2 separate regions of the Homo sapiens genome follow, and region 2 is linked to region 1. Evidence: fine-mapped expression QTL. A gene starts in region 1. The other region holds a variant in brackets. All regions are shown on one strand. Distances are from middle to middle.

The links. PIP is the estimated chance that this variant, and not a neighbour inherited with it, causes the effect.
Region 2: its variant is fine-mapped to the expression of CCDC88A in whole blood (INTERVAL, PIP 0.99).

The regions. Positions count from the first base shown.
Region 1 is chr2:55,417,902-55,422,301 of GRCh38, reverse strand. It overlaps CCDC88A (coiled-coil domain containing 88A), which reads left to right and starts at 2,446. Exons shown (of 33, transcript NM_001365480.1): 1 at 2,446-3,285; 2 at 3,386-3,486. The coding sequence starts at 3,223. RefSeq lists silencers at 2,046-2,335, 2,396-2,445, 2,476-2,545.
Region 2 is chr2:55,273,416-55,277,815 of GRCh38, reverse strand. No RefSeq gene overlaps it. Among named protein-coding and RNA genes, the nearest start is that of MTIF2, 6.4 kb to the right of the region's middle. The variant G/ATG (reference allele first, on the strand shown) is at 2,262.

The sequences.
Region 1 (4,400 bases):
TGGGGCCATCTGGCTCTAGAGAAGAATCCAGATTTCTGTGAGGGCTGGGTACTAAATTGCATAAACAATACTATCTTAATGTATGACTCCTGTGCTAACCCTTCAGTCACCACTTCAAAATGCCCCTAACCTGCTGTATTTGGTGTTAATACTTTTTGGTTTTTCGCCTATGAATGAAGCAGATTGATTTGTCCTAGGATAAACCCAGTATAGGCATAATTACTTCCATATTGTTTTGTCAAGCGTCTGGGGGATTACAAAGAAAAGTGGGTATGTCAAGCACTGGGCTGCTCCTGAAAGCAATGCTGTCTCCTTGGTGCCCACTCTCCTTCTGTCTGTATTTCATTTGCCAAATAAAGAACTGCTATTAAGAAAGAGTTATCAGGCCAAGCGCGGTGGCTCTCACCTGTAATTCCAGCCCTTAGGGAGGCCGAGGCGGTGGATCACTTGAGGTCAGGAGTTCGAGACCAGCCTGGCCAACGTGGTGAAACCCCGTCCCTACTAAAAATAGAAAAATTAGCCAGTGGGTGGTGGCGGGTGCCTGTAATCCCAGTTACTTGGGAGGCTGAGGCAGGATAATCGCTTGGACCCTGGAGGTAGAGGTTGCAGTGAGCTGAGATCGTGCCACTGCACTCCAGCCTGGGTAATAGAGACTCTGTCTCAGAAAACAAAACAAACAAAAAAAGAAGGAGTCACCAAGCCAGGCGTGGTGGCTCACACGTCTCGTCTCAACTGCTAGGGAGGCTGAGGTGAGAGGGTCACTTGAGGCCAGGAGTTTGAGGCCAGGCTGGGCAACACAGTGAGACTCCCATCTCTAAAAGGCTTTTTAAAAAGTCATCAAGAGCAGATGGAAAAGATTGCTAGCAACAAGGATGTCTGAAGGCTTGTGTACTGGCTAGGGAAATGCAAGGTTCTACTTGTACATCACCTAGCAAAGTGCCACATGAATGCATCCTAATTTTAATTAAGATGATTTTCAAAGGGCATTTAGTTCCCTCCTCAAAGCAAGATCCTTTCTCCTGTAACTGAAGCAGAGAGGTTATATTTCAAGTTTTTCATAAAGGTTCTTTATTTTGAAGGAATAATGTTAAAAACAACATTAATGACATTTATAGAACACTTAACTATAAGCTGCCATTTCATTTAACCCTATTATTAGCCCTGCTTTACACGTGACGGAATCGAAGCACAAAGAGACTCAATAACGTGCGTAGGCTCACACAGCTGGTGCATATTGGAACCAGGCAGGAAGACTTCAGAGTCCAGGTTCTCAACTACCCAATTAAGAAATTCTGCTCTTTCTTAACTGTGTTATGACAAAAACATTTTTACTGCTAATTTAAAATATATACTCCGTGTAAATATTTATGTAATGTAAACATAGCACACATTATAAAACTATAATATTATCTTTTATCAAAAAAAGATTGCGTTCTATATGCCCATTTTACCCCGGGAAAAAGGTCTTTATTTTCCTTTGAAATGAGGAGTAGCATTTGATTTTGCCAGGGAACTTAAAATTATTTCAAGGTCCCAGTCGTACGTGGCATGGAGATTTATGACAAATATGTAATCTGTTTATTTGTCACCCAACTTGGATGACTTCTAAATGTTTCTTCTTTGTAGCTCTTGATTTTGCTTGGGTTTCCCCCGACCCATGCCCAAATAGTAAAAAACAAAACAAAACCAAAAAACAATGTCTGAGTCATGTTTGCTCCAGTCAGGGAATACCAACGTGCTGACAGACAGCTCTGGTTTTTAAAAAATCTTACTGTATGTCACTTGCAACTTTGAAGAACATTCATGCGTTAGTGGACTGCATTTGGAAGAAAACAAAAAGGAGAAAAAAACCCCCACCAAGTTGTGGCTCAAGTCCCTCTGCCATTTGCTGCAGTGAGTTTTCCTATTCCATTTTGCTGGGGAGAAGGCATGCTTTACAGAACACATCAAACTGTCCGAAAAAGGCTGTCTGCATCCCTCATGTTTATAAGAGAAGGATTTCTTTCCCCTTCCTTCACGTATCAAAGAAGTCACTCGGGGAGGAAATAAACCATAATTAGGCATGAGCGAGCGAGCAGACAGACCCCTTGCTCTGCCTTCCCTGTCCCCGCCCACCAGGCAACCGTCCTGGGCGCAACCGAGGAGCGGGTTGTCTCCGCAGCAGCTGCAGCGAGCGCGCGCCCACGCCCGAGCCCGCGCCCGCCGCCAGGATCTGGGCGGCGGCGAGGCTAGCCCGGGGGCGCGCTCGCTCGGGAGCGCGCTCATGCAGCGGTTTTCTTCTCCCACAATCCAGAGGCAGCTGCACGGGAGGGGCGGGGAGTCGGCGGAAGGATATCGGCGCGGAGGGAGCAGCGCGCTCCCTTTGACGGCGGCCCCCGGCATTGGCGGGCGGCGCTGGCGGGCGGCGAGGGGTGGGGTGTGATGCGGCACTGCGGTTCTGAGGCCGTTACTCCGGCTTCTCCATAGAGGGCGGAGAAGGCTGGAGCGCGGCGGTGATTTTGTGCCAGGGATTCCCAGAGACGCGCTGAAAGGCTGGCAGGGCTTAGGAAGCTGGGGGGTTAGGGACACACATTCAAGCCCCCACCCCCGGGAGGGGAAGGGGGCTGGAGGCGAGGCTTGAGGGCGGCGGAGGAATGGTGTCTGCTCGGGGGGAAGGGGCGAGCCCTGCCTGTTGGTACTGAGGGGCTGCGGGCAGTGGAGGCTCCGCGGGTCGAAAGCGGCTCCATGCCCATCGGTGGGTGGAACGTGTAGAGGTCGGAACGCCGAGGTCGAGTCTGGTGGCGCCTCGGTATCCTTAACGTGGTCTCTGTTTAACGTATTTCATTTAGCCCCCGTTGGGATTGATTCATTGGGAGCAGTTTCGCTGGTCTGGATCCTCCAGGAGCTGGACAACCTTGACGGGCTTTTTGTCTTGGGTTCCAGCCCCCTTTCCCTTCCTCCTCCTCCAGATGCCTTTTCTCTGCCCCTCCTCGCCCGGTACAGACATTTCCAGCGCAGGCTGCTGCTCGTGGTGTCCGTCGTCGAAGCCACTTCTTGGGATTTCGGCTCGTTTCACTCTGGGGTGTTTTTTGAGGAGGGAGAGTGCCCCCCTCCTCCACGATGGGATTTTTCTCCCTTGCCGAAATGGACTTTCATTGATTTCTACTTACTTCCACGTTTAGTGACCAATTCCCTAGGCGTATTTTTGTGGTAGTTCCTTTTTTCAAATACATACTCTGTAAAATGGAGAACGAAATTTTTACTCCCCTTCTGGAGCAGTTCATGACCAGCCCTTTGGTCACTTGGGTAAGTGGGGTGTCCTTTATTGTATATTTTGCTGAGTTATTTGTGGCTGCAGAGATGGAGGTGGGCGTTCATGTCGTGGTGATCCTTCTGTTTGTTCTAGGTTAAAACGTTTGGACCTCTGGCCGCAGGAAATGGGACCAACCTTGATGAATATGTGGCTTTGGTGGATGGGGTATTCTTGAACCAGGTCATGCTCCAAATGTAAGTTCTTCCTTCTTTCCTAGGTAACGTTTTCTTTGAGAAATAGCATATGGTGAACTTTGAGACACGATGTTTTAAGCCCCTAATTTGGTTCATTGGCCAGAAATATTCAGGTGGTTTAAGAATTGGATCTTGAAAGGAATGCTAATGTTATGGGCTCAGCCCATTATCACAACCTAGATATTTTACCTGTTAAAATTGTGAAACTTTAGTTTTTCATTCTGTCAACCATGTATTGTCACTTGTCTTCAGTACTGAAATCCAAGCCACATTGTGTATTCTTTGATAATTTGGTAAAATAAGAGAGAAAATGAGAATCTGGTTTCCTAAGAGAGGAAAAAAGACTTTACTGTGAAGTTATGTGCATTTGATGCAGAAATGTTTCTTATTAACCTTTATATCTAGAAATAAATGGCTCAAAATTTGAAACTCGTTAAGTAATAGCAGATTTCAGAAGAGAAAATTTCAAACAGTTCTGATTGGTGAGGACTCTTGCTGTAGTAAATAATTTAAATGCCTGTAATAACTAAAGCCTGATGAGATGATTTATTGTGTGAATTATTAGGTTGCTTAATATTTTAGGGATCATTTTAAGGTATTCTTACAGGTTTTGAAATGCAAATAACAAGTCTTGATAACAATTAGATAACGACTTATTGGGCAAATCTTTGTCTTTTGTGTTTATAATATTGGGTTTGTACTAAGTAGGAAAGTATGCTTTTGAGATGGGAATTGAATAGTGAAAGTATATTGGTAGCTGGATCAGTAAAATTAAAACTCAGCTTTTATCTAATTACAGCTATTGTAGCATACGTGTATTCTAAGTACGCTAATGTAGTTTATCAAACTGAATTTTTCAGTTGTGCTCAAAGTAATGTATACTTAGTCTTATTTCTCTTTAATAGAATCTGATG
Region 2 (4,400 bases), 140 kb after region 1:
TGAAACTTGTCTCAAAAAAAAAAAAGGTAATAACCAGTTAACTGGTTATATGGAATGTAATTTCTTTCTAATTAAACCGTAAAATGGATGAACACATTGCTTGCTTGCCTGGGAAAACACTGGTTTCATGCAATGTGAACAAAATCTACATAGTAGACGACAACTGGGTTAAGCAGAGAAGGAGCATGTTTTTTTCTTTTTTGTTCACTTTAAAACACCCATTTAAAATTGTGTGGTTATAAGGAAGCTTTACTTTGGACAAGCACTGTTTACAGAAGACACAGCCGAGCCCAGGCTGTGTTGTAAACTCCCAATGTGTAACTCCTGAGAGCCACAATTACTGCAATTCAGGAAGCGTGCAGAAGAAGGTCAGGTGAACAAGACCTGCCCTGAGTTGTTCTTTAAATCAGACTTAATTTTCTGGGTCTACCTAGACCACTAAATTAATGAATACAGCCACATATTCAGGGGTTTTTGCTTGTTTGTTTTTCCTTTTTTGTTTTTTTTTTTTGAGACGGAGTCTTGTCACCCAGGCCGGAGTGCCGTGGCACAATCTCAGCTCACTGCAACCTCCACCTCCCTGGTTCAAGCAATTCTCCTGCCTCAGCCTCCCAAGTAGCTGGAATTACAGGTGCCCGCCACCACGCCTGGCTAATTTTTGTATTTAGTAGAGATGGGGTTTCACCATGTTAGTCAGACTGGTCTCAAACTCCTGACCTCAGGTGATCCACCCGCCTTGGCCTCCCAAAGTGCTGGGATTACAGGCGTGAGCCACCACACCTGGCCATATATTCAATATTATTACATGGTCTGCAGGTGGTTCTCATAGCAACCCAAGAAAACTGACTTCCATACAAAAGTGCTGTAACAGAGGTACTTTTCCTACTTTGCATGTATGGACTACGGATATTTTAAGTCATGCATTTCAGTGATTGCTTCAACTGGATTAGGTTTGTGGGAACTACTTTGGAATTTCTGTCCTAGTCTTACTGGCCAAGAGAAGTTTCCTATGATTTTAATGCCTTAATTAACTTGCAAGTAATATATATTTGCATAAATTTTAATAAAAATATTAAGTTGAGATCAGAAATCACATATTATTCCTCTATCCCTGCTGGATGGATTTACTTATTGATGGTAAATACTGATTTGAGTAAATGTCAATAAATATATTTTGGAATGTGTTGGCTTTAAGAACAAAAAGGGCCAGTTCAATTAAAAACAAACTCATATTCAGTATTTTTCCCAAACATAAAATAGTGTCTTTTCTAACAAGTTGCATGCATTTTTTTTTTTTTTTTTGAGATGCAGTCTCTCTCTGTCACTCAGGCTATAGTGCAGTGATGCAATCTCGGCTCGCTGCAACCTCTGCTGCCCAGGTTCAAGCAATTCTCCTGCCTCAGCCTCCTGAGTAGCTGGGATTACAGGCACCTGCCATTGCGCCTGGCTAATTTTTGTATTTTTAGTAGAGATGGGGTTTCACCGTGTTAGCCAGGATGGTCTTGATCTCCTGACCTCGTGATCCGCCCGCCTCGGCCTCCCAAAGTGCTGAGATTACAGGCGTGAGCCACCAAGCCCAGCCCCCTATTTCTTTAAATAAATGTTTTAATACTACGCTTTAAAAATAAAGACAAGTTAACAACATATATATAGATTGTTAAAAAAAATTAGACCACATATGAAGATACAAAAATTTAAATCACAGGTATATAAAAATATTCACATTGGACACATAATGTATATACTCTAATGCTGTTTATTTCTAAAAGATTGTTTTGTTTTGTTTGTTTTGGGACAAGGTCTTGCTCTGTGTTGCCCAGGGTGGAGTGCAGTGGCATGATCACAGCTTACTGCAGCCTTGACCTCCTGGGCTCAAGCAATTCTCCCACCTCAGCCTTCCAAGTATATGAGACTCCAGGCACACACCACTGCACTCAGCTAATTTTGTATATTTTTAGTTTTTGTAGAGATGGGGGTCTCCCTATGTTGCTCAGGCTGGTAATGCTATTTATTTCTAATTTTTCTGATCAAGACAGAATTATATATTTTATAATCTGCTTTTCTGTTTTCATCTAAGTATCCATGTCAACAGATCTACTTTATTACTTATAATGGCTGTATAATATTCCATTTACGTATCCAACTCCAAATTTGGAAATATCCAATGTCCAATGACCTAATGTTAGTTATTTCCAAATTTTCAATATAATTACAAATAAGGCTATAAGTGTATTTCTCTCTCTAGGTGAATATATATATAT[G/ATG]TGTGTATATATATACATATATGTACATATATATACATATATATACATATATACATATATATACACATATATATGTATATATATATATACATATATATGTATATATATATACATATATATACATATATACATACACACACACACATATATACACATATATGCATAATTGTTTCATGTATTCCTTAGAATAAATACCAATAATCTGCAAAGTTACACAGTTCACACCTTTTTTTGGTTGTTTTGTGAGACAGGGTCTCCCTCTGTCATTCAGGCTGGATTGCAGTGGCGTGATCTTGGCTCACTGCAACCTCAGCCTCCCAGGCAATCCTCTCACCTCAGCCTCCCAAGTAGCTAGGACTACAGGTACATGCCACCACACCCAGCTAATTTTTGTATTTTTAGTAGAGACAGGGTTTCACCATTTTGGCCAGGCTAGTCTTGAACTCCTGGCCTCAAGTGATCCTTCCACCTTGGCCTCCCAAAGTATCTGGGATTACAGGCATGAGCCACTGCAGCTGGCCAATTTCCATTATATATTGTTGAAAAGGCAAAAGGCAGCATGTATTGTATAAATCCCATTTATATAAAATTGTATGCATATGTATATTTATTATTATTATTATTATTATTTGAGACAAAGTCTTGCCCTACTGCCCAGGCTGGAGGGCAGTGGCACAACCTCTGCTCGCTGCAACCTCTGCCTCCCAGGTTCAAGCAATTCTCCTGCCTCAGCCTTCTGAGTAGCTGGGATTATAGGCAGCCGCCATCACGCCTGGCTAATTTTTGTATTTTTAGTAGAGACGGGGGTTTCACCATTTTGGCCAGGCTGGTCTTGAACTCCTGACCTCAGGTGATCCACCTGCCTTAGTCTTCCAAAGTGCTGGGATTACAGGCTTGAGCCACCAATATACATTGTATCTGTATGTATATTTATGCGTGTTTTAGGATATCTTTCTTTCTTTCTTTCCTTCCTTCCTTCCTTCCTTCCTTCCTTCCTTCCTTCCTTCCTTCCCTCCCTCTCTCCATCTCTCCCTCCCTCCTTCCTTCCTTCCTTCCCTCCCTCTCTCCATCTTTTTTTCCTTCCTTCCTCCCTCCCTGCATTCCTTCCTTCCTTTTAGAGTCAGGGTCTCACTCTGTCACTCAGGCTGGAGTGCAGTGGCATGATCATAGCTCATTGTAAGCCCGAAATCCTGAGTTCAAGTGATCCTCCCACCTTGGCCTCCAGAGTAGCATAGGACTGCAGGTGTACACCACCATGCCCAGTTAATTTTTTTATTTTTTGTAGAGAAGGGTCTTGCCATGTTGTCCAGGTCTCAAACTCCTGGCCTCAAGTGATCCTTTGGCCTCAGCCTTCCAAAGTGCTGGTATTACAGGTGTGAGCTACTGTGCCTGGCCCTTTCTTTCTTTTTTAAGTCAACTTTTTTTGTTTGTTTGTTTGAGACGGAGTTTCACTCTTGTTGCCCAGGCTGGAGTGCAGTGGCACGATCTCAGCTCACCGAAACATCCACCTCCCAGGTTCAAGCAATTCTCCTGCCTCAGCCTCCCGAGTAGCTGGGATTACAGGCGTGCACCACAATGCCCGGCTAATTCTGTATTTTTAGTAGAGATGGGGTTTCTCCATGTTGGTTAGGTTGGTCTTGAACTCCTGACCTCAGGTGATCCACCCACCTCGGCCTTCCAAAGTGTTGGGATTACAGGCGTGAGCCACCGCACCCAGCAATCAACCTTTTAATTTTGGAATAATTTTAGATTACAGAAAAGTTGCTGAGATAGTGGAGCGTTCCCAAGTGCCCTTTACCCAATTTTGTTAACATCTTACATTAATCATGATACACTTGTGAAAATTAAAAAATTAACATTGGGGTATTACTGTTAACTAAACTACAGACATTATTCAGATTTCACCAGTTTTCCCACTAATGTGCTTTTCTGTTAAAGGATTCTATCCAGGATACCATATTGCACTGAGTTGTTATGTCTCCTTAGTCTCTTCTGATCTGTAACAGTTTCTGAGTCCTTTCTTGCTTTTCCTAACCTTGACAGTTTTGAAGAGTACTGGTCAGGTATTTCGTAGAAGGCTCTTTAATTGGGTTTCTCTGATGTTTTCCCCATGATTAAAGTAGGGTTGTGGGTTTTTGA